Linked DNA regions of Homo sapiens. The protein of the gene in region 5 purifies or fractionates together with the protein of the main gene of each other region. This does not show direct contact. Each region holds a gene or a part of one and is shown on either strand. Other genes may lie near its edges.

Region 1 (3,500 bases), on a different chromosome or scaffold from region 5:
TTGCAATGAGCGGAGATCGCGCCACTGCACTCCAGCCTGGGCGACAGAGCGAGACTCCTTCTCAAAAACAAACAAATAAATAAATAAATAAAGATATATTTGTGTGGGCCAGGCGCGGTGGCTCACAGTTGTAATCCCAGCACTTTGGGAGGCCGAGGTGGCCCCGTCTCTACTAAAAATACAAAATTAGCCAGGTGTGGTGGCGCATGCCTGTAATCCCAGCTACTCGGGAAACTGAGGTGGGAGAATCGATTGAACCTGGAAGGTGGAGGTTGCGGTGAGCCAAGATCATCCTGTCGCACTCCAGCCTGGGCAACAAGAGCGAAACTCCATCTCAAAAAGAAAAAAAAAGATATATTTGTGTGACTTACAGGTACAGGTAAAGTTGCTTCTGGTTTTCTGGTTGTTGCATGGTATTTCCTATGCAGCCACAGCTCTTTATTTTCTTACTTAAGTGCCTCCAACTTCCCATAACACAAATTAAGGCATGATGAACATCCTCTCTGTGCTGAACATCCTGTGTATGTCACTTTAGAAGCCTGTGTGACGGTTTCTTTAGTCTTTATACCTAGGGGTGGGATTTCTGGGTCATAGGACAGTAATTTATATTTATTTTCACTAAGTATTCTCTTTCTCTGGCTTTTGTTACATATTACCTGTTTGTCCTCCAGAAAACTTGCACCAATTTACATTCCTACCAATAGGGTAGGAGAGTGCACACTGGGTGGATTCTAACTCCAAATCTAACACCTCTTCTTTTCTTTGTTTCTAGCAGCCATGGCAATGACAGGCTCAACACCTTGCTCATCCATGAGTAACCACACAAAGGAAAGGGTGACAATGACCAAAGTGACACTGGAGAATTTTTATAGCAACCTTATCGCTCAACATGAAGAACGAGAAATGAGGTAAAGAATTTTGTTTGAAAAAATTGTGTCATGGTTGTGGCATTCCTTTCTCGTATTGTAAAACACTTATAATGCTGAAAGGAGACAAGAATAGTAGCAGCCTTATTATAGACTATCATAATGGAATGACAGTGAAAGGGCTTTTCAAAGTCCCTGCCATTAACCCACTTATGCCTACAAGTCAATAACACAAACTTCTATTGAAATCCAAGAAAAAAAATGATACTTGGGAGGTTGAGTTGGGAGGATTGCTTTAGCCCAGGAATTTGAGGCCAGCCTGAGCAACACTGAGACTCTGTATCTTAAAAAAAAAAAAAAAAAAAAAATTAGGCCCAATCCAAGGAGTTGATTGTTAAGGCAGAGTGGTATAATGGAATAGCAGCCCTTTTGGAGTCAGACTTGGGTTTAGAGTCCTGCCAGTTTCATTGAATAGCTGTATGAAGCTCTAATAAGTTCCTTAGTCTTTCTGTGAATTGGTTCCCTCATCAGGAAAATGGGGATAATACTACTTGCCTTGCAGGATTGTGTTGGGGATTAGATATAACATATGTGAGTATGTACCATAGTGTTTCACACATAGTAGTCACTTAGTTAATGGTGGTAGTATCAGCTATTGTTATTACTGATCTGGTGTATACTGTCCACTTAGTAACTCATAATTTATTTATTGGTTTTTTTTTTTTTTTGAGATCGAATCTCACTCTGTTGCCCAGGCTGGAGTGCAATGGCATGATCTCAGCTCACTGCAGCCTCTGCCTCCTGGGTTCAAGCGGTTCTCGTGCCTCAGCCTCCTCAGTAGCTGGGACTACAGGTGTGAGCCACCACGCCTGGCTAATTTTTGTATTTTTAGCAGAGACGGGGTTTCACCATGTTGGCCAGGCTGGTCTTGAACTCCTGACCTCAGGCATTCCACCTGCCTCGGCCTCCCATAGTGCTGGGATTACAGGCATGAGCCACTGCTTGGCTGTAACTCATAATTAAAAAAAAATTTTTCCCAATATTTTACTATGAAAGTATTCAGAAGTACAGAAAACTTGTAATAAACAGTGAATATATACATATATATCATCTAGAGTCTATAATGGTTATTTATTATATTTGTTTAACTGCATATCCATCTATCCATTCTTGTATCTGTCATTAATCCATCTTAATTTCCTTTTTTTTTTTTTTTTTTTTTGAGACAGAGTCTTGTTCTGTCACCCAGGCTGGAGTGTAGTGGCGTGGTCTTGGCTCACTGCATCATCTGCCTCCTGGGTTCAAGTGATTCTCCTGCCTCAGCCTCCCGAGTAGCTGGGATTACAGGCATGCGCCACCACGCCCAGCTAATTTTTGTATTTTTAGTAGAGACAGGGTTTCACTGTGTTGGCCAGGATGGTCTTGATCTCTTGACCTCTTGGCCTCCCAAAGTGCTGGGGTTATAGGCGTGAGCCACTGTGCCCGGCCAATCCATCTTAATTTTTTGCCTCACTTCAAGGTATGTTGTAGACATCAGTATACTTCTGAATATTTCTGCTTATATAACATTAACTAGAATTCAGTATTTATACTTTTTGGGGAAGGGTGTAAAATTTATATACAATGGAATGCACAAGTTCAAGGGTACCATTTTATGAGTTTTGACAATTGCATACACTTGTATAACTTAAACCTTTATCAAAACAGAACATTACGTCTCCCAGAAAAAGTTTTCATGCCTCTTGGTTCTTCAACCTTAGACAAAGACAACCACTGTTGTGATTTTTTTTTTTTCTTTTTTTCTTTTTTTGAGACGGAGTCTCACTCTGTTGCCCAGGCTGGAGTGCAGTGGCGTGATCTCGGCTCACTGTAAGCTCCGCCTCCCAGGTTCACGCCATTCTCCCACCTTAGCCTCCCGAGTAGCTGGGACTACAGGCGCTTGCCACCAAGCCCGGCTAATTTTGTTTTTGTATTTTTAGTAGAGACGGGGTTTCACTGTATTAGCCAGGATGGTCTCAGTCTCCTGACCTCGTGATCCACCTGCCACAGCCTCTTGAAGTGCTGGGATTACAGGCGTGAGCCACCGTGCCTGGTTGTGATTTTGTTTCTATCATAGTTTTGCCTATTTCATACAAGTGGAACACATAAATGGAAACATGTAGTATGTACTCATTTGAGCAAGGCATCTTTCATTTAGCATATTTTTTTTTTTGTCGAGACGGGGTGTTGTTTTGTTGCCCAGGCTGGTGTGCAGTGGCACTATCATAGCTTACTGCATCCTTGACCTCCCAGGCTCAAGCGATCCTCCTGCCTCAGCCTCCCAAGTAGCTGGGACTACAGGTGCATGCCACCATGCTTGGCTAATTTTTAAAATTTTCTGTAGAGACAGGGTCTCACTTTGTTGTCCAGGCTGGTCTCGAACTCCGGGGTTCAAGTGATCCTCCCACCTTAGCCTCCCAAAGTGCTAGGATTACAGGTGTGAGCCACCACACCTGGCCAGCATATTTTTGAGGTTCCTCTGTGTTGCTATATGCATCAATAATTTGTTCCTTTTTATTGTTGGTACTATTCTGTCTTCTGACTATATCTTTGTTTGTCCATTCTCCTATTGATAAACACCTGGGTTCTTTTCAG
Region 2 (3,500 bases), on a different chromosome or scaffold from region 5:
CCTTTTCTAAACTATTGTAGAATTTGAATAATACTCATTTTCAGAATTCTCTGCAACAGAACAACATCTCTTTAGACTGTAGTTTGTTAGGTTTTTGCTCTGAGGAGACAGAACAGTTGCTGCTTTACCATTTGTCTTTTACGTGCTTAAAATAAAATTATAAAGTCTTTCTTCAGCCTTCTTATACCCAGTTTCTTTAATCTTTCCTATGGTTCCTGTTTCTCTACTTTTTCCCTGTGGTTTCTTGTGAAAATATAAATCCTCCATGCTGCTTTGTTTAAATAGTACTATGTAAACTCTAAAGTGTTATGCAAATGATAAGTTATTTTATTATTACAAAGATGGTAGACCCTTGAACTGCACGTTTATGAAAGTAGTTCAGTGCTTGCTTTGTTGTTGTTTTGGTTTTTTTGATTCCCAAGTTCTGCCTTAGGATCTCCAATGCTTGCTTTTAATGGTTCTTGGACAATCGATGCTGTTACTGAAAAATTTGGAGTTCATATCTTTACACTCCATGGTCCATATCTCATCACTTTCCTAATTCTTATAACCATTTTATTTAAATTCAGTTCTGATGAACATACACCAGTGGAGGATGAAGAGCCAAAGAAAAGCACTACTTCAGCTTCTACTTCAGAAGGTATTTTTAAAAAAAGGGTATTTTTAAAATACAAGCTATTTTATTGAGAGATTTAAAAAAATCAGTTTGTAAATAGTTGAACATTAGACTTTGCTTTTACTCAAATTGCCCATCGTCTGTTTCTTTTGATGTTCAGAAATAGTTTTTTAGAATATAATTTTTTAATTTGTACTTTCTTAGAAGAAAAAAAGAAGAAGTCTAGCCGTTCAAAAGAAAGGTCCAAGAAAAGGAGAAAGAAAAAATCATCGAAAAGAAAACATAAGAAGTATTCTGAAGATAGCGACAGTGACTCTGATTCTGAAACAGACTCCAGTGGTAAGAACGCCAACAGCATTCTGCAAGCCTTGCTTCAAAACTAGTTTTACTTCTTAAAACTTATTTTAGAAGAAGGTTCCTGAAAACAATAATAATACTGAAGAGTTTTTGAACACTTGCTAACCTTGTGCCAGGTACCCCAATAAGTGCTTTATATTTATTATTGCCATTTAATCCATACAATAACTGTAGGGTACATCTTATAGATGAGGAAATGGAGACAGAGCAGGTTATAAGTACTATCCCTAAGGTCACACAGTTTGGATTCAAACCTAAGCAATCTGACTCCGGATTGGGATTGGTTGTGCAAAGTGTACAAGGCACATGGCACCAGACCAAGTCAGGGGGTTGGGCTGTACCAAAGTAAGCCTTACAGGGCTGCATCGGCCCAGTGGAAGGGCTCTTTTGTTTAATTCTCATGCCCAATGAGCACCTCTACAGTTTTCAAAAAGGTATGCCATAAAGTGCCTACTTCATGCTGGCTGCCTATTTGTGGAAGGCACCCTATCTGGGGTAGTGCATCACAAAGAGTCTCCTTTTTGTACTCTCTCCTGGCTGATGATTGACCAGAAGGTGCCTCCTCTGAGGTTAACACATTACACAAAGATTCACCTTCCTCTGATATCGCCGAAGTTTCCTGGCCCTCCCTGTCACTTCTCTTCCTCAGTGCTCGAAGACAGAACTTTCAAATATTTCTGTATGCAACACTTAAAAAGAGGCATTTTTATACTTAACTACAACACTATCTCATACAATAAAATTAGTAATAATACCCTATACACCAAATACCTACTTAAAATCCTTCAATAGCACTCCATAGCCTTCAGGGTAAAGTTCAGACCCTGACTCATTTCTCTCTAATCACATATACCCTGTTACACTCTCTTGCAACATCCTCTGTAATCTGAAAACTACTTTCTGTCTCCTCAGTATTCCATGTTCTTTCTCTTGTTACTTGGTAGAGAGGCCCTCTGCCTACAATGCCAGTCTCTCCCTCCATCCAGCTTGGTTTACTCATTGCACCAATGGGCATGCATTACTTTTGTAATCAAAGAACTACTTTAAGAGTCACCTTTCCTGATCAACCATTCCTCAGCCACCCTCCTCAAATCAGTCTGATTTTGAGACTCCTCTGTGTGTCCAGGTTCCCCAAGCTTCCCTCTATCATTCCAGATTGTATTGATCTCTTTACCTATCTGTCTCCTCCATTAGACTGAGCTCCAGGAAAGGATTCTCTCTCCCCTCTCCAACACACACATAGTTTTCTTTCCCTTTTTATCACAAAAATATTTAAATATTCAGAAAAGCGAAGAGAATAGTATAATTAATACCATATACTTAATCACCTAGATTTGGCAGTTGTTGGTATTTTTACATATTTGCTTCAAATATGGGTTTTTCACTGAGATAGTCAAAGTTAATTACAAATATCATCACACTTCCACCCTAAATATTTCTGTATGCATCCCGTAAAAAGAGGCATTTTCCTAATTAGCCACCACACTATCTCACACAATAAAATTAATAATAATACCCTATATCATCAAAACCTAGTGACTTTAATTTCTATGTTCATAGTACCTCCCTACAGTTCGTGACAAATAGCAATAAATGTTTCAATGAGGTAATTTCTTTGTAACAATAAATGGGACAGCAATAGGATAGTTACCTACTCAAAAGTACTACGGTTTTAGAGTTAAAAAATTTTTTTCTTAATTGTAATGTGCTTTAATTTGCAGATGAAGATAACAAAAGGAGAGCAAAGAAAGCCAAGAAAAAGGAAAAGAAGAAGAAACACAGATCGTCAGTTTTTTAAGTTTTATTATGGAAAATTTCTTTTCTTTTTTTTTTTTTTTTTTTTTTTTTGAGACAGAGTCTCACTCTGTCAGGCAACAGAGTGCAGTGGTTCGATGTCAGCTAACTACAACCTCCGCCTCCCAGGTTCAAGCGATTCTCATGTCCCAACCTCCCGAGTAGCTGGGATTATAGGCACCCACCACCATGCCTGGCTAATTTTTGTGTTTTTAGTAGAGATGGGGCTTCACCATGTTGGCCAGGCTGGTTTCGAACTCCTGACCTCAAGTGATCCTCCCACCTTGGCCTCCCAAAGTGCTGGGATTACAGGAGTGAGCCACTGCACCCGGCCAGAAAATTTCAAATGCATATAAAATTACATAAAATAGTATAATGATCCTTCCTGCACCTGTCATGCAGTCTAAATAATTATCAACTCATGGGCAGTATCTGCCATCCATCATTTATTTTGGACCCAATCTCAGATATCATTCCATCCATAAGCAATTCAGTACCTTTCTCTAAAAGATAGGCATTCTTTTTGTTTTGTTTTGTTTTTTTTGAGATGAAGTCTCGCTCTGTCGCCCAGGCTGGAGTGCAGTGGCGCGATCTCGGCTCACTGCAAGCTCCGCCTCCCGGGTTCACAAAGATAGGCATTCTTTAAAACAAAACAAAACAAAAAACTGGCCAGGCACAGTGGCACATATCTGTAATCTCAGCACTTTGGGAGGCCAGGCAGGAGGATCGCTTG
Region 3 (3,500 bases), on a different chromosome or scaffold from region 5:
TTTCCCTCCTCCTCACTTGTGATAACCCTGTGATGCATAGGTACATTTCAGCAGCCTCAGGACTGAGACTCTGGAAAGCCCTGCATTCGTGATGTGACATTGAAGTGTGCCCCATGTGTGTGCACTTGAGGCATTTGCTCAGCCCTCTGGAGCTGGTCGTCTTCTGGCCAGGGTGCTGTTCCATGTTTGTGGCTGAGTGACCATTGCGTATTCTTCATGCCTTTGAACTTTTTCAGGGAGCGCATGGAGCTTTTGGAAGAAGCCAAGAAGATGGAGATGGCCAAGTTTCGCTACATCCTGCCTGTGTATGGCATCTGCCGCGAACCTGTCGGCCTGGTCATGGAGTACATGGAGACGGGCTCCCTGGAAAAGCTGCTGGCTTCGGAGCCATTGCCATGGGATCTCCGGTTCCGAATCATCCACGAGACGGCGGTGGGCATGAACTTCCTGCACTGCATGGCCCCGCCACTCCTGCACCTGGACCTCAAGCCCGCGAACATCCTGCTGGATGCCCACTACCACGTCAAGGTGGGGGGCCGCACGGTGCCCGAGAGAGCTGGGCAGGGAGGGCCTGTGTCTTGGGGAGCAGGGTATCAAGGGGTCAAGCCCTGAGGTCAGGACAAGGGCAGAAGAGGAGGTGGTTCTTCTTGGAGGAAAGAGCTTGAAACCGAGGCCTTTTGCAGCATGAGGACTCCAGGAGCCTAAGCTTGTCCTGGTTGGTATGAAAACCACACGCCATGTAGCTGGAGGGTAGCTTGGTGAACATGGGGGCTGTTCCCCCAAATCTTGGCATATGACTCATTCCGGAAAAAGATTACGGGTTTGTGGGTTTTGGTCTTATGAAATCAGGTTAGAATTCAGCCCGTGGGCCAGGTGTGTCCTTGCGAGACCTTAGGCTCTGCAACAAAGGGACGCATTTCCCTCAGTGTTTTCAGGAGCTCGGGGTGGTGGGAATGTGGGGGTCCTCTGCAGTGGGGTCCTCAAAGTGCTGTGGAAAGAGGCTTGTGAGGAGGGGCTCGTTGCCTCTGTCTGCCCCTGCGTAGAGTGCGGAGTGGCAGCGTGTTGCGTTAGTGCAACGCCTGGGAGATGGAGCTTGCTTTTGCTTCGCTGATAGGTTTTTGAAACACAGAAAAGTAAGAGAGATAATGTAACTGAAAACCAGTGTTGCCTCTGGGCCTTGGCAGGTGTTAGCATCATCACCTTTGCATCAGGGCTGTATTTCCTTGTATCTCCTTTGATGGCCTTCGTGGCTAGGGTTGTACTGTCGTTGACATGTGGTGGTTACACCTGGCGCGTTGTAGTTTTTCCCCACGTGGTGATGTTCACATGCTCTTGGGAGGCCCAGGGTGATAGGCTGGTCCACATGACACTGGTGTCTGCCCTGGGAGTGAGAAGGAGCCGAGAGCCATGGTCCGGATCCATGTAGTTCATGCAGGGGACAAGCAGAGGAGTCCCCTGCCTGGCTTGGCTGTGCTACTGTTCCTGGTGGCACAGCACTTCCAGGCCTCTCTGATGGCCTGACCATTAATTAGGAGAGACCTGAATTCAGGGCCCGGCCCTGCCCCTGAGCTCTTGGGTGGGACGGGAGCGGTGGCTCGTATGGCATGCGCACGGCCGCTCCCTGTGCCCAGACTCTGCGGACGAGTGCATCTCGCGTGCCTTGCTCAGCCAGGGCGGTGGTGAGGAGGTCAATTTTTCACTTCGGGCAGTAATTATAAGTTGTCTCTTAGGTAGGTGTTGCGCAGTAATAAGATTTCAGCTAGAAGATGAAGCACCGTCCTGCGAAGTGAAGTAGGAAATTGAGATAATGGAGACAAAAATCAAATGACTTGGCTTGAACGGGCTCTCTGGTGGTTTCCCGCATCTGCTTATGTTCTGGGACCCCTGGGATTCCCGTTTCCTGTGATGGGCAGGGCTGGGCCTCACATGCGGACCCCCCATTCCCGCCAACATTTACGGGCTTGTTTCTAGGTAGCACAGGCTCTGGGGCCCTAATGACTAGTAAGCTCTGCCGTCCAACGTGCACTGAATACCGGAAAGGACATGCTAGAGGCTTCACCTGCGGGAGCTGCCCTCATCCTCAGAGCAGAGGTGCAGAGTGGACGGTGGCCTCTGGTTCTCGCTGAGTCTCTGCTTAGAGTGAGTAAATTAGCAGCCAGGATCGTCCAGCTGTAAGTCACGGAGCAGAGACCTTGATTTCCACCTGGCCTGCCACTGTGCTTGACATGAAAGAAACCAAATGACCACTGCACGTAGCAGTCACTTGGGGGCAGGGTGTGTGGCCCGCAGGCTGGGCCTAGAGGCGGCCCTGTGGGAGGGGGTGGGAGTGCTCCTGGGGCTGGGCCTTCACACAGGGTGGGGCTTTTCTGCCCTCAGGAGTCGGGGCAGGCAGCAGCAGAGCCTTTAGGTGAAGGAAACAGCCCAAGAGACGCAGAGAGCTCTGGGCCTTCCTGCAGGGGCAGCAGGCAGCAGGGCTTCCCTGTCTTTCAGGACAGCTGCAGGGGGCGGATGCTGCCTGGAACTGCTTTCTCAGGGAGGCTGCTGTCGAAGGCACGCTGGGTGCTGGCCAGGAAGTGACAGGACATCTCTGTGTGGTGCCCCTGGGACATCTTAGGGCCCTGTGTACCCTGACAGGCCGCAGGAAAGATTGCTTTTGTGTGGCGTCCTTCTTAATCAGGCATGTTAGTCACCATCAAGAAGCCCAAAAACAAACCGAAAAATACCTTTACGTGACATACTTATTTTTTCTGTGAAATAGCTACTGGTGTGCGTAGAGTGCAGCAGGGAGTGTGTGTCGGGGTTCTGAGAGTCAGCGCCTTTGTTCCTGAAGACGAAGTGTGGAAGCTTTGCATGGACTGACCACTGGGCTTCTGGGCAGTCCTCAGTAGACAGTTATTCAATGCAGGAAAACTGTAATCCAGAATCCTGCAATTAGATCCTAAGTTGCCATTCCAGTGCTGCCATTCGCCTCTGAGATGGGCTCCCTCAGTGCTCAGGGCTCGATTCAAACTGGAAATATCACAGCAACTGTCTACTTCATGAAGCAGTTAAATGTAAATAGTATACAAAGTAATAGTATCAAATTAATGCTTGATATTATTCAACATTACATATACTAAATACCAATATTAAGATACTAGTTGGAATCAATTTCAACTTAAAAATGAAATAACTTGGTTTAAAATCTCAGGCTGCATTTATATGTCCAGTTAGCCCAAAACAGACGCTTTTCAAAGGGTCACACGCGGGTCACGTTCTGCTGTGTCTTTCTTTTAGAGGCAGCAAAACCCCGGCAGGCTGCTTTCTTAGTCTTGACAGCTGGACCTTGAAGTTGAAGGGCCATGTGCTTGGGGGCAGCTGTGAGCCCTCAGCTCTTGGAGATGCAGAGTCGGGTGCTGATGAGAGTGTTTGTAACTCTTGAAGCATTTGCTGGTCAGAGTGGATGCCACAGTAGCTCGCTGTTGAGGACACGGGGTGAGGGGCAGCTTGGGTGGGAAGAT
Region 4 (3,500 bases), on a different chromosome or scaffold from region 5:
TGTTATTCACATAGTGTCTTCCCTGCTGAAACTGCCCCCTCGGTACAGCTTGGAGCGTCTCATCCGCATTCCGCACAACCATCCATAGGGGCAGACTTGCTATCAGCTGAGTGTTAACTCTGAGAAAACTGAAGTTCTTAGAGGGGAAATGATGTGGCTGTCTCGAGCCTACTGAGTACAACCGGCCAGAAGGAAAGTGGCGAAGGACGGAGATGCCTACATGAGCACCGACATGAGCCCACACTGGCGCTGTCACCGCGGATCTCTCCTCACCCGCGGGACCTTTCCTCACCCGCGGGACCTTTCCTCACCCGCAAACCTCTCTTTGCCCGCGGGACCTCTCCTCACCTGATGGGACCATTTGCATAGATTTCTGCCATCATCTTCTCCCTCCCAGAGAGGGAGCCGTAGTCTCCCACCCTCCAGAGGGTGTAGTTCCGGATGGCGTGGCACTCTTTGAATTCATTGCATGTCCCACATTGGTTAAACTTGTCACACTCTGGGGGAGAGCAAGAAAAGTCAGCATGAGGCCGTCTCCTCATCAACCCACTGACAAAGAAGCCCGCCAAGCCCACTCTCCACTCTCATCATGCAGCCTACCACTCAGCAGCTAAGAACGGAAATCATCTTGCTATTAGGTGCTGCTTAATGACGCTCTTCTTTCAGCTGCCAGGGAGTTATGAAAAGCCCTTCCCCAGGCCTTGGCAGAGAAGAAAAGAGACAGACATTAATTAGCACATAGTAGGCACCCAGGAGTTCGCCTTTTTCCTCTAATGGCTGGAGAAGGACCTTTCCACAATACTTTCTAGCTGAAAATGGAGCATAATCAAATGATTAGCACTTAATAAAATGTCTCTATTGCTGGCTGGTGAATAAATAGGCCAATACTTTGGGTAACAACAACCACAAAAAAGCATTTTCTTCTGTGCCCACGCTGAGGGGACCAAAAAAAAAAATTCTGGTTATTTCGACTTAAGAGGTTATCAAGAATTAGGCTTAAAAAATAAAATAAAGAGGGCCAGGCGCCTGTAATCCCAGCTCTTTGGGAGGCCGAGGTGGGTGGATCACCTGAGGTCAGGAGTTTGAGACCAGCCTGGCCAACATGGTGAAACCCCTGTCTCTACTAATAAAGTACAAAAATTAGCTGGGTGTGGTGGTGGATGCCTGTAATCCCAGCTACTCAGTGGAGGCTGAGGCAGGAGAATCGCTTGAACCCGGGAGGCAGAGGTTGCAGTGAGCCAGGATCGCGCCATTGCACTCCAGCCTGAGCGACAAGAGCGAGACTCCGTCTCAAAAAAAAAGAAAGAAAGAAAGAAAGAAAGGACAGGCGTGGTGGCTCACACCTGTAATCCCAGCACTTCGGGAGGCCGAGGCAGGAAGATGGCTTGATACCAGGAGTCTGAGACCAGCCTGGACAACAGAGCGAGACCTCATCTCTACAGAAAAAAAATTTTATAAATTAATTTAAAAAAAAGAAAAAGTACAGCTCTCGGTTTTGCAAGGCTCAGAGTCACTGTGTTCCCACTTTTCACTCCATCCACACGGCGGCCCTCGGCCTGCCATTCGCTGCTTTGGCGCGACCTGTCTGTCATAGTTACACATCTGTCGGGATTCCTCCCCCAGGAACATGAGCACCTTGAGGCTCAGACACTGGTTCAATTTGTTCCTTGCACACCAAGTGCCCAGTGCCCAGTACTACGGGAAAATGGTGGATGTGTGGCCACACTTTTGCTAACACTACAAAGATGACTATTTATCGCAATCAGGTTTTTTTATTCTTTTCTTTTCTTTTTTTTTTGGAGACAGAGTCTCACTCTGTCACCCAGGCTGGAGTTCAGTGGTATGATCCTGGCTCACTGCAACTTCTGCCTCCTGGGTTCAAGTGATTCTCCTGCCTTAGCCTCCTGAGTAGCTGGGATTACAGGCGCATGCCACCGCGCTCGGCTATTTTTTGTATTTTTAGTAGGGACAGGGTTTTACCATGTTGGCCAGTCTGGTCTCGAACTCCTGGTCTCAAGTGATCCGCCCGCCTCAGCCTCCCAAAGTGCTGGGATTACAGGTGTGAGCCACCGCGGTCACCAGTCACACAATCAGGTTTCTGATGAGCTCCATCTGCTCCTGTCAGGCTGGGTGGGTTGGAGGGGCCTGGCCTCAGCTGGGCGAGAGCACTTTGGCGTGGAGTGGGCGTGGCCCTGGAGACCACCTGATACCTGCTTCCTGCTTCCAGAGCCATCTGATAGCCCTTCCCTCTGCACCTTCCATCTGTCCCCCTTCTCGAAGGACTCACTCAGCCAGTCCAGGAGAATTTCTGGCTGAACAATAAGGCCTGAGAGGCAAGGCAAGGGAGCCCCGTTGGCAGAGGGTGGTGCCCAGAGGACCTTCTGCCACTTCAGAGTGCACAGGGCGCTGGGGCCAGCCTATATAGCCTGGGGCAGGGGTGGAGGCAGCAAAGCAAGCAGCTGCTGGGCTTTCCCAGCTCTCTGCTCTGGCTGTGAGGGAGATCTGAGTCAGGTGGCTTAAAACTACCAGTTATGGCCGGGCACGGTGGCTCACACCTGTAATCCCAGCACTTTGGGAGGCCGAGGCAGGCATATCACGAGGTCAGGAGATCAAGACCATCCTGGTTAACACAGTGAAATCCCGCCTCTACTAAAAATACAAAAAATTAGCCGGGCGCGGTGGCGGGCGCCTGTAGTCCCAGCTACTCCGGAGGCTGAGGCAGGAGAGTGGCGTGAACCCGGGAGGCGGAGCTTGCAGTGAGCCGAGATCGCGCCACTGCAGTCCTGCCTGGGCGAAAGAGCGAGACTCCGTCTCAAAAAAAAAAAACAAACTACCAGTTATGGCCGGGCGCAGCAGCTCATGCCTGTAATCCCACCATTTTGGGAGGCCAAGGCAGGTGGATCACTTGAGGTTGGGAGTTTAAGACCAGCCTGAACAACATGGAGAAACCCCGTCTCTACTAAAAAATACAAAAGTAGCTGGGCGTGGTGGCGCATGCCTGTAATCCCAGCTACTCAGGAGGCTGAGGCAGGAGAATCACTCAAACCCGGGAGGCGGAGGTTGCAGTGAGCAGAGATCGTGCCATTGCACTCCAGCCTGGGCAACAAGAGCAAAACTCCCTCTCAAAAACAAACAAACAAACAAACAAAACCTACCAATTATGGGATTAGGGTCTGGACTTTTCTTTCCTTCTGTTTCTAATGGGAGCAGCCTGAAAGGAATGTGCCAGCTCTAGGGATTCCAGGCTAGCTTGGGTCTGCTCATCCACACAGCACCCCCTTGGCCGTAGCCGCACCTGAATGTGGGGGACCTGGGCCCTGGGTCACCAGAACAGGAACCAAGCCAATGGCTCCTTCCAGTTTGGGGCAGCACCTCCCCACCTGCTCTCCACCAAAGCTCCTGGAAAATGAACTCTCCCTCCACAAGGCCCCCTACACCTCTCCCCTACAAAGGCCCAAAAAGCCACCAAAATGCCAGCATGTCAGAACTCAAACACCACA
Region 5 (3,500 bases):
TATAAGTTATTGTCACCTTTCTCTAGTATTTTTAAAATCTCTCCCTCTTAACTGCTCCTCGTCTCCTTGGCCCCATTCTGTTCTAGTCTGAAGTCAGAGTAATCTTTCTTATATCCAGATCTGATCATATTATTCTCTTCACTCCCCAGTTGGTTTTTTGATAAAATCCTCATTCTTTAACTACCAGAGATCTGAGTGATCCACGCCCTACCTACCTTGTTCATTTAGTCCAACAAATTTTTATTGAGTACCTTCTACATGCCATGCACTGATATACAACAGTGTATCAAAACCAAGTCTGTGCTCTCATAGAACATTCTTGTTAGATAACATAGACAGCAATCCTATATATATGTCAGATGGAGATGGGTGGAGAAAGATAAAGGAGGGGAGGTGAATGGTTTGTCAGCTTTATCTTTTACATTTATCCAGGAAAATTATATAAGATTGGAAACTACAGGACCTCAGAGGTAGTATGAAAATACTGGAAGGACTGGATTTGGAAAATGGGAGAAACAGCAGAATTAGGGCAGATTAAATGGGGGTTGTGAAGAAAATGGTCAGGCTTGGATTTCTGGCTTGGATAACTACGGAGATGGTGGTGCCACTGAGTGAGATGGTGAACAATAGAAGAGTAGCAGATTTGGGAGGAAAGGTGATTTCAAGCTTTAAACATGCTAATATGTGGTACCTATGGAGATTCAGGTAGAGATCCAGAAGTAGCTACCAGAGTATGAGTGTTGCTGATTCTTCTTATTGAGGAATAAAAAGATTTCTACAGTGAATTTGAAATGATAGTGGTTCTATTTTCTGAACTCTTGGCAGACCTAGTTACTTGAGCAAAGGTTTCTTTGAGCTGATAAAAGTCTCAGAATCCTTTATTTACCCTTCCTGGTAGCCTCTTCCAGATCATAGTTGACATTTAAGATTAAATCTATTTACCATCAACAGTTGAGAGAAATGATTGCTTTTAGAGAATAGTTCATTAGCCCCACAATTTATTATAACTACTGCCTAATTAAAGATTCAGATTTATAAGCCTGTTGAAAGGTTTTTGCAGTCTTAGAGATGGAAAATTCTTATCACTAGACAAGGTCTAGAAAAAGTCAATAACGAAGCAAAATATTAAATTTATATCATGGATTGAGCCCCCCAAAACTTACTCAGCCTTTTCAAATATGGGGTAAACAATGTAACTTTAAAGAGCTCTTAGGAGCTTAATGAAACGAGTGAGATAATTTAAAAAGTTTGATCTCCCATGGACATTGAAAAGCGTCCAAATCAAATTAATTTTTTAAATTATATGAGTTGTTATTAAAACCACATTTTTCTTATCTATTCACTGTACTGTCCTTCTTTGAGTATTTTCTGTTTTGGTTCTCTCATCTAGTTTTTTTTTTTTCTTTCATTTTATAGGTGGTGCTATTGATGGTGGTTTTTATAATTTAGATACAGCTAAAAGGTTTAATCACAAAGTTGAATTCCTGTATACACATGGGTACTGGTACTAATCAGCTGAAACTGCATTGTTGGTTCAAGTCACAGAGCATGTTGTGATTGCTGCTTTGGGGTATTGTTTTCCTCATGAGATTGTTTATTCTCGAGAACCAAAAGAAGTGAGCAGTCAGACTTGATGTTTCACAATTGAGATGGGGTAGCTTAGCACTACCACGTGTTTCACAGGCCAAAGAGGTAGAGCAGGCATTTCCACAATGTTAAATCTGTTTGTTAAGGGGAGAAGGGAACTAAGTATTTGCTTAGTTCCCTTACTACCTGCTGGATTCTGTGCTGTGTAAGTTACATTCATTAACTAATATGATTTTCACTTATATACTCATTTTCTTAATTATTACAGAAGTGGTGAAAATACAGCATCAGTTTTACAAAAAGATCACTATCTTGATTCATCTTGGAGAACAGAGAATGGCCTTATTGTAAGTATTTTATAAAAATATCAGGTGCATTAAGCTGTTATTTATTGCCTAGAGTGCTTCTTCTTTTTTTTTTTTTAAACTTAGTGCTAGTTCTCAACTATCACAGATATAATATTTTTCTTTTTTAGAAATTTAGAATTTTTTTTTACTTTAAAAATAGAAACCTCTTTCTTTTGACATTGAAAAATGGCCTGTTGAGAAACAGGTTTGGAGCCAGCTAGATTTAGGTACAGGTCTTTGCTCTACCACTTCTCAAATTTGTGAACTTCAGTTTCTTTACACCTAAAAAAGTGGTAGGTGGGCAAGGTGGCTCCTGCCTATAATCCCAGTGCTTTGAGAAGCCAAGGCAGGAGAATTCCTTGAGCCCAGGAGTTTGAGATTGCAGTGAGCTCTGATTGTGCCACTGCTCTCCAACCTGGGCAACAGAATGAGACCCGGTCTCAAAGAGAAAAAAAAAATGGGATTGTCACAGGGCTTATTTCTTCATGTAGTAGTTACTTTTTTTTTTTTTGAGATGCAGTCTCTTTGTCGCCAGGCTGAACTGCAGTTTCGTGATCTCGGCTCACTGCAACCTCTGCCTCCCACATTCAAGTGATTCTCCTGCCTCAGTCTCCCGAGTAGCTGGGACTACAGGCGTGTGCCACCCCGCCCAGCTAATTTTTGTATTTTTCATAGAGGCGGGGTTTCACCATGTTGGCCAAGCTGACCTTGATCTCTTGACCTCGTGATCCGCCCGCCTCAGCCTCCCAAAGTGGTGGGATTACAGGCGTGAGCCACCGCGCCCGGCCATGTAGTAGTTACTTATTGAGTACTTACTCGGTGCCAGTCAGTAGGTCAGGCTTGGAGAATACGACTACAATGAAGACAGACGTGTTCCTGCTCTCAAGAAGTTTATTTTCTAAGAGGGAGTTAAGTAATAAACAGGTAGACAAACTAATAATAGATTTTGAAGGAAATAAGCAAGATGCTGAATGAGAGTACCAGAGTGGGAAACCTAGTTTAGATTAAATTGTCAGTGAGGGAATCTCAGAGGAGGTGAGATTTAAGTTGAAAATGATGGGAAAAAGGGTAGATATGTGAACAGTTAAAATAAAATTATAGGCAGAAGGAACAGCAACTACAGAAGCTCTGGTTGAAGGCCAGTGTCTAGAATATGGTGGGAAAGGAAGGAGTGGCAGCATGTGGCAAGGTTGGAGAGGCAGGCTAGAGTTCTGTCATGCAGGACTTATGAGTCGGATTATGCTAAAGGGTTTACATTTTGTTTTAAAGGAACTGGGACATCATTGAAACATTTCATATAGATTTAATAGAGATTAGCAAATTTATTTTTATAAAATTAATTTTGGGTACTGTGGTAAAGATTGGAGGGAAGTAAGAGTGGAGTTAAAGGGACCAGTTAGGAAACATTCACGGTAATGGAAGCAAGATTTGATGATTGGGACTTGGCCTGAGGTAGTAGCAGAAGAGATAGAGTAGATAGATTTGAATTATATTTTGGAGGTAGAACTGGTTGATAGATTGGATATGGGCATCAAAGGAAAAGGAAAGAATCCACAATGATTCCTG
Region 6 (3,500 bases), on a different chromosome or scaffold from region 5:
CCTGGAGTTGCCAGGTGACATAAAGCACCTACCTACTGCTTGGCTACCAAACTTTGATCTCTCTGACTCTGGCTGACAGGGCATCACTAATTCCGCCTTTAAGGTACTTAAACCTGTGGGCTATGGTATCATGGTCCTCTGGACTCCTCTAACTCATTTTTCTTTCTTTTTTCTTACTCCATGTCAGGCTCCTGTGCTGAAGGAGCTCAAAGCTATACAGGAAAGCCATCCCAGACAGCTGGCTGAGAGCAAGGCCCTGGGGAAGAAGTGGGGGCCTGATAGGGGAGGGGGCAGTTCTGAAAGGAGATGGGAGCAGCCTCCACAGGCAAACCTGGCTGACTTCATGGCATGCAGCTTGCTCTTCCCTGTCATCAAGTCCCATGAGCTGAGGCTGTCATAAGCTGAAGGACTATTGAGAGCACACTGTACCACTTCCTGGGCACTGAGAAGAAGCTTGGTGGAGACCCTAGAGACTGGGACCACCTACCCCCTGCAGTTCTGCTCATGAGAAACTGAGGCCCAGCGAGAGTTGCGCCCAGCGAGAGTTGCGCCCAGCGAGAGTTGCTTCTGGCATCAGTAACATTCAGTTATTCTTTCTTTCATGTCTTCAATCTTTTTTAATACCTACTTGAGAGGGGCGCAGAAATAAACAGAACTCCGTTTTAGGCTTTCTCAGCTCAGAGTTAAGCCCTGGAGGCAGAGAGATCTGCCTAAAGAATTAGAATTGCCAGAATGAGATAAGGGGAGTGGAGTCAGGCATCCCTGATCTACTGCCTGGATGTCAGTTTCCCACCCATGAAATAGAAGTGTGGATGGGAAACCTTGAGGGTCCCTGCCAGTCTAGAATTCTAAGTGCCAAGGGAATGTCTACAATCTGGGAAGCTCTCAGTGCTATGAGCCCACAGGCAGCCTTTCCTTATAACCAAGAGCAAAGTGATACTAGGGCTGGGCTGCACAGCAGAGACTAGAAGATCTATCTCCCTGCCTTCTAGGCAGGTCTAGGCTAGAAGGGAAGAAGGAAACCCACTTTTTGCTGGTGTTTGCAGTTCTTCCTTCCAAAATACAGGAAGCACCTGCACTGCATGATGCCTCAGACCAGGGGAGGCCAGTGGCCAGCCTCTGCCTGTTGCTCTCCCACTTCCACACTGGGTGCTCCTGCAGGGCACGGCCTGGGTCTGAGGCTTGGGATCCCAGCGAGGCCAGTTCCAAGACAGGAGCCTGGGAGCTGCTAGACCAGTGTGGGTGGGACCAGGCCAGGGTAACCACAGGTTTAAATTGGGTGGGGAGGAGACTCTTTGTAGTAAGCTTCTCATTCATTCATTCTAGAACCAGTGGTTGTTGTCCTACCATATGCCAGGTCTTTAGTTAAGTTAAACTCTCTCAGGCTCTATGTAGCACTTTAAGCTTGTGTATATCTTTCTCTACTCCCAAGATCCAAGATGGCTGTTTCCTGAGCTATTTGGGATTTAGGATGACACAAGTCCCATTCCTGACCCCCAGCTGTACTGCAGGTAGATTTTCTGGGTCATCAGTTGTATCTTACCTTCCATTTCTTTCTCTGCTACTCTGAAGGGGAAGTAGGGAGATGTTTGTTTTATGAGCCAGATGGGAAAACAGGCCTTAGAGCATAGTATTCTATCTCAAATCCTAAAACCAGGCATTTGTTTCCCCATTTTCTAGAAGAGATGTCTTCTCTGTTTTAGAGAGACTTAGATGAGTCTTGTTCTCCATGGCTGGAAGGGCCAACTACCTCAGTTCATGAAATGACCATAAAAAGACCTCTGTTGGGCTGGGTAGCTCACGTCTGTAACCCCAGCACTTTGGGAGGCCAAGGCAGGGGGATCGCATGAGTCTAGGAGTTTGTGACCAGCTTGGTCAACATAGGGAAACCCTGTCTCAAAAAAAAAAAAAAAGGAAAAAAAAAATTAGCAGGGTGTAGTGGTGCACACCTGTGGTCCCAGCTACTCAGGAGGCTGTGGTGGGAGGATCGCTTGAGCCCAAGAATTCAAGGCTGCAGTAAGCCATGATCATGCTACTGCACTCCAACCTGGGTGACAGAGGAAGACCCTGTCTCAAAACAAAACACCTCTGTTGGTGACTCATCAAACTTTTCAGGAGCCTAAGATCTAATCAACTTGATCAACTCTTATGGACAACAGGCAGACGTGGTTCCTGTTGTCATAGGGCTGCTCAGCTAGAGAGAAGACAGACAATGAGCTACCCAACAATCACAGAGATGAAGCTTAGAGCTTGTGAGCACTGAGAAAATAGCAATTAGTAACAGCTGAGAAAGTCTGGGGCGGCTTCACAGGAGGTGGGCTCCAAGATGGGCAAGGTCTCAACAGAAGCTGGCTGTCAGGTGAGGTCTTTCATTAGAGGGAACAGCATGAGCACAGACCTACACCTACTGGCTGGGCCATATCTGCCCTGGAGCTGAATCGTGTGTGGCACCAACCTTCCAGCACTGATACCCTAACCCAATGACCTAGGGGGCCTTATCTGCAAGGCCCAGGCCCAGGAATCAGAACAAGGACAAGGACAGGGCTTGGCTCTGTGTACAGGGCAGGGGCGGGGTGTGGAAGGACAGAGAACTCACACTCAGCAGCATTTTGCTTTTGTTGACCTCAATAGGGTTTAGAAACCATCTTGACTAGTAGTGAAGATTCTTCCTTCATCAGGACTGCTACCCTAACACACAACCCTGGTGGGGTTGGCCAGAGGCGAAATTGGCCAGAGCAGGGATACCCTCAAATGTATCATCCATTCCTCTGAAATACTCCTACACTTCTGGCTGTAGACCTGAGGGCACAAGAAAGTTGTCAGCAGAACATGGGCTTTGTGGGAGGCATCAACCTTCCTGGGGAGGCAGGAGGAACACACATGGAAGCAGGATCGTCGTAGCTGGAGGGGCTGCAGGTGCCTTGGAGTCTAGACAGCGGGTGTCATCCATGGGGTGAAGTCCCTGGAGCGGGAACTTAAACATGAAGGTGGAATGTGAACAGACAATGAAGAGAGAGGGTATGCCACGTGGAGGTGCAGGTTTTGTGAGGAAGGAATTTTCTTTGCTAGGAAAGTGGTGGGGGTGGATAGGCTGAGCTGCAGGTATGGAGAACAGCCAAGACAAACCTATTACTAGAAGAGGGGTTGATGCTGGTTGAGGAAGTTCCAGAATGTCTGGGGGGAATTTGATCTTATTCTTCTTGGACTTCAGCGAGCTGATCTGTAAGGGCCTTCCCAGGGAACAGGGATGGGGTATTTGACGACTGTACTAGGCTGAAGGACAGAACTGGCTTTCCTGTGGACCGGGTGTCAAGCACGGCAGTAGGCCAGGGGCTTTCAGGCTGCCCCATTAAATCCTACCTCATCCATACATGGGACCTGTTCCTTTCTGAGTACCTGGACACCCAGGTCATGAACATGATAGGCCTCTCTGATAATAGATGTGTCTTAAAAGAGCCTTCAATGCTAAAGATCAGACTTTGCTGGGGAGAAAATGGAGC
Region 7 (3,500 bases), on a different chromosome or scaffold from region 5:
GCAGATATACCCACATAAACATTTGCCATAAATATTTGGCAATGTGGCAAAGTGTTAACAATTTTGAATATAAATGGTTATGTTGAATCGTGTATTATTTTTATCAAATTTTCTGAAAGTTTGAAAATTATCATAATAAAAAATTGAAGGACTAATATTAAAACTGCATTTTCTTAATGTTTCTATTTGGATATGATGGAACTGTATCATTAGGCCAAATTCACAAATTTTATACACTTCACATTTCAATGGTAGATCTTTACTCATTGGCTCTAAGTTGTATAAAAGAATAAAAAAGTGTAAATTAGCAAAAAGGTAGAGTGACTTTAATTTTGAATTTTTTTGTGACATTTGGGGGAAGTCAATTTGATCAAGGAGGCCTGGAATCATTAACAATAACTCAGGGGGAAAAAAGGACTTATCCCTAAGCTATGAAAAAACCATGCATAGAATAGATGTGTTTAAACAACTGATTGGATGACAGACCCCAAAGAGAAGTAGCAGACTAAGACATGGGCAGTGATAGGTCAGGTCTATGTTCTGCTAAAGTTCCTCAGTGTTGATTTCATCCACTGTGAACAGTTACCTCCATAAACAGGTAATTTTTCTCTTTTTTTTTGAGACGGAGTTTCACTCTTGTTGCCCAGGCTGGAGTGCAATGGCGTGACCTCGGCTCACCGCAATCTCTGCCTCCTGGGTTCAAGCGATTCTCCTGCCTCAGCCTCCCAAGTAGCTGGGATTACAGGCGTGTGCCACCAAACTCAGCTAATTTTTTGTATTTTTAGTAGAGATGGGCTTTCTCCATGTTGGTCAGGCTGGTCTCAAACTCCCAACCTCAGGTGATCCACCTGCCTTTGCCTCCCAAAGTGCTGGGATTACAGGCGTAAGCCACTGCACCCGGCCTAATTTTTCTCTTTCTGACATGGATGACTTTCATTGTCTGCAGCTAATTTTTAGTATATCTATGCCCCTGGTCAAGAATTGTTGAAACATCAAGAAGAGGCATTCAGACATCCAAATTCCATGTAAACCCCTAGCACCTCTCTTCTCTTATTCTAACTCTCTGTTCACGTACAGCTCATTTCATCTTTTCCTAGCTTCATATCTATACACCATTCCCTCCAAATCACCTTCACCCATGCACTTTCTGGTCATCTTTCATAGCTTAGAGGTAAGTCCACCTTTCCTTGAGTTCTAATTGATGATTCCAGGCCTCCCTGATCAAATGGACCTCCCCTAAATATTACACACGATTCAGCATTAAACTCATTCCAATTTTTCCCTAATACTTTTCCAAGCAGGGTACAAACAAGAAATCTTCACGCCTTTCTTGACAGAAGCTTTGCTCTCTAGATAATCTTCTACTTCACAAAGATAACTGGGACAAAACAAACAGATATTTGGCAATAGGACAGGAAGAGGGGGCATGAAGAACCGAAAGGAGAGAAGGCCAAGGGAGCTCACCTGGTTGCAGACAGGCTTGTACTTGAGTCCTGGCTTGTTGAGGATCATCTCCAGCTGCCTGCGGTTGAAGTTTGACACCCCAATGGACTTGGCCAATCCTGCATCCTTACACTTCTCCATGGCCTGTGGAGAAAGGGGTTGTGAGGAATTATTTGTGCAGTTGGCTGCAAATCACGGTAAATGCAAGACAGAACTGTGAGAGCAACAACTTTCAAAGTATGACAATGAAAATAGCTAGCAGTGATTGTCAAAAAAAGAAAAATTCAAACAGCAAATAGGGGAAGAAGATAGAGGCAGCAAGAGTAAGAATTTCTATCTCTTCCTTAGGAAACTGGATAGATTAATGCACAAGCAAGGAAAGAGATTCCTGTCCTCCTTGCCCCCAAGTCTTGTGCCCCACTCTCTAAACATTCCTTTTGTGTTTTTCCCTTCATCTCACCAAAGCTACTCTTGTAAAGTTTCTGAATTTCTAGATCTAATGGTGCATATTCCATTCTTTCCTATTGAACCTGGGAAACAGATTTTCTCTTTTTGTCATCCTTCTCTGTGTCCTCTCCGCCAAGCACTCACCTCCCAGGTGGTACAGAGATCCACTATGTCAAATATTACTTTTCCATTTTCATCTGTTGGTGAAAGTTCCTCACCTGGCTGAAATAGAAGCAGTCATTTTAATGATGTCACAAATTAATTTCTCCACTCATAGCTGTAACCCCAGGTACCTTTAAGGACACTAATCCTCCATGAGACAGGTGGTACAATGCTCCAGAAAGTGATATGTGCTAAGTGTTTTACATATGAAGGTATAAGGAATGTATTCAGGAGACAGGCTTCCTCTAATCTCTTACAAATATTATATGCATGGAAAAGGACCATTTTCTAGGTCTTAATCAAGTTTCACAGTTGACTTATGTCACTTTATTCCGCCCTTATAATTTCCTCTATTGAAGTACCTCTCTTTGATTTGGAAATACCTTGATATCCAAAAATAATGGATTGTACTCTTGTACACGGTAGGATTATCAGACCACCTGAAGAGTTGATAGTCTTTGGGCAGGACTGTGAATCACATAGGGTCAGCAGAAGTTGGGAGACCCAGAGGAGTTGTCTTATGGTGATGACCATGAGCCTTGAGCTGCTCCAAAGCCATAATCGCCACCAATGAAAAAGTTTGGGTCAACAATAATAAAAAAAAGTGTTGGAGTTTAGAGATAAGAATAGACAAATGATACATTTTTGTAGACTATTTCATATCCTTAAATGTAGCCATGTCTTTGACTTCCCATTTTACATAACTCAGTAAACTCTTTTGCATTAACTAGCCTGAGTAGTTTTCTGTAACTTTAAATCAAAAGTTATACACTACACAGTAATTCCTGGCTAAATACAGCTTCAAACTCTATTGTGAAAGAAGAGGCAGCAGAATAATAAAGCTTTGCAAGTCCACATTAAGGGTTTCTAATTTAAGAACCATGCATAGTGGCTTCCACCAAATCTGCTTCAGCTTGAAATGGGGAGAGATGGTGGAAACTCATTGTGCATCACATGTGCAGCAGTTTTATTGGGCACCACAACTGCATGAAACTCTGTGTCTGGGAACATCCCAAGAGATGGACTCAAAAGCCACAACTAAGACAGTGCCTTGAAAGAGACTATTGTAATTTCAAGTTTTTGAGGAAGAGGCTTTGAGGTTGCTGTACTCTCTTCTCTTGTAGGTGTGCATTAGAGAAGTAGGATTCAAAATTTACTCGAAAGAAAGGAAATTAGGTGTTCCACTTACGGTTCTTCTTCTGTGTGATAATCCCTACATCCTCCTAATAAAAAGCTCTGTTCAACTATCCAGATAAACAATGTTTATAATGACAGCAGAAGCGCAATTTTATGCTCATACAAACTGCATACCTTTAGAGACATTGGAGAATGAATAAGATAGAGGTCAACATAGTCCAATTGAGCTTTCTTCAGTGAGTTTTCCAAGGCTGGTCGGACCAACTCTGGTCGATGAAAAGTGGACCAAAGCTGCAGAGGTTAAAGAATGG

What was found.
Region 1: the proteins of MYSM1 (region 5) and STK38 purify together in Homo sapiens (affinity purification with mass spectrometry, with the first as the bait; one study listed by BioGRID). This does not show direct contact.
Region 2: the proteins of MYSM1 (region 5) and NKAP purify together in Homo sapiens (affinity purification with mass spectrometry, with the first as the bait; one large-scale study listed by BioGRID). This does not show direct contact.
Region 3: the proteins of MYSM1 (region 5) and RIPK4 purify together in Homo sapiens (affinity purification with mass spectrometry, with the first as the bait; one large-scale study listed by BioGRID). This does not show direct contact.
Region 4: the proteins of MYSM1 (region 5) and CTSZ purify together in Homo sapiens (affinity purification with mass spectrometry, with the first as the bait; one large-scale study listed by BioGRID). This does not show direct contact.
Region 6: the proteins of MYSM1 (region 5) and C2CD3 purify together in Homo sapiens (affinity purification with mass spectrometry, with the first as the bait; one large-scale study listed by BioGRID). This does not show direct contact.
Region 7: the proteins of MYSM1 (region 5) and AKR1C3 purify together in Homo sapiens (affinity purification with mass spectrometry, with the first as the bait; one large-scale study listed by BioGRID). This does not show direct contact.

The regions. Positions count from the first base shown.
Region 1 is NC_000006.12:36,537,480-36,540,979, reverse strand, and holds part of STK38 (serine/threonine-protein kinase 38), read left to right. Parts: intron 1-190; exon of another isoform or gene 191-379; intron 380-772; 5' UTR 773-777; coding exon 778-908; intron 909-3,500. UniProt on the Homo sapiens protein: Serine/threonine-protein kinase that acts as a negative regulator of MAP3K1/2 signaling. Converts MAP3K2 from its phosphorylated form to its non-phosphorylated form and inhibits autophosphorylation of MAP3K2.
Region 2 is NC_000023.11:119,933,752-119,937,251, reverse strand, and holds part of NKAP (NF-kappa-B-activating protein), read left to right. Parts: intron 1-569; coding exon 570-640; intron 641-820; coding exon 821-955; intron 956-2,694; coding exon 2,695-2,758; intron 2,759-3,500. UniProt on the Homo sapiens protein: Acts as a transcriptional repressor. Plays a role as a transcriptional corepressor of the Notch-mediated signaling required for T-cell development. Also involved in the TNF and IL-1 induced NF-kappa-B activation.
Region 3 is NC_000021.9:41,753,553-41,757,052, reverse strand, and holds part of RIPK4 (receptor-interacting serine/threonine-protein kinase 4), read left to right. Parts: intron 1-236; coding exon 237-528; intron 529-3,500.
Region 4 is NC_000020.11:58,997,255-59,000,754, forward strand, and holds part of CTSZ (cathepsin Z preproprotein), read right to left. Parts: intron 500-3,500; coding exon 349-499; intron 1-348. UniProt on the Homo sapiens protein: Exhibits carboxy-monopeptidase as well as carboxy-dipeptidase activity. Capable of producing kinin potentiating peptides.
Region 5 is NC_000001.11:58,693,563-58,697,062, reverse strand, and holds part of MYSM1 (deubiquitinase MYSM1), read left to right. Parts: intron 1-1,855; coding exon 1,856-1,934; intron 1,935-3,500. UniProt on the Homo sapiens protein: Metalloprotease with deubiquitinase activity that plays important regulator roles in hematopoietic stem cell function, blood cell production and immune response.
Region 6 is NC_000011.10:74,014,003-74,017,502, forward strand, and holds part of C2CD3 (C2 domain-containing protein 3), read right to left. Parts: intron 1-3,500. UniProt on the Homo sapiens protein: Component of the centrioles that acts as a positive regulator of centriole elongation.
Region 7 is NC_000010.11:5,097,414-5,100,913, reverse strand, and holds part of AKR1C3 (aldo-keto reductase family 1 member C3), read right to left. Parts: intron 3,481-3,500; coding exon 3,364-3,480; coding exon of another isoform or gene 3,316-3,363; exon of another isoform or gene 2,738-3,315; intron 2,113-2,737; coding exon 2,035-2,112; intron 1,588-2,034; coding exon 1,465-1,587; intron 1-1,464. UniProt on the Homo sapiens protein: Cytosolic aldo-keto reductase that catalyzes the NADH and NADPH-dependent reduction of ketosteroids to hydroxysteroids.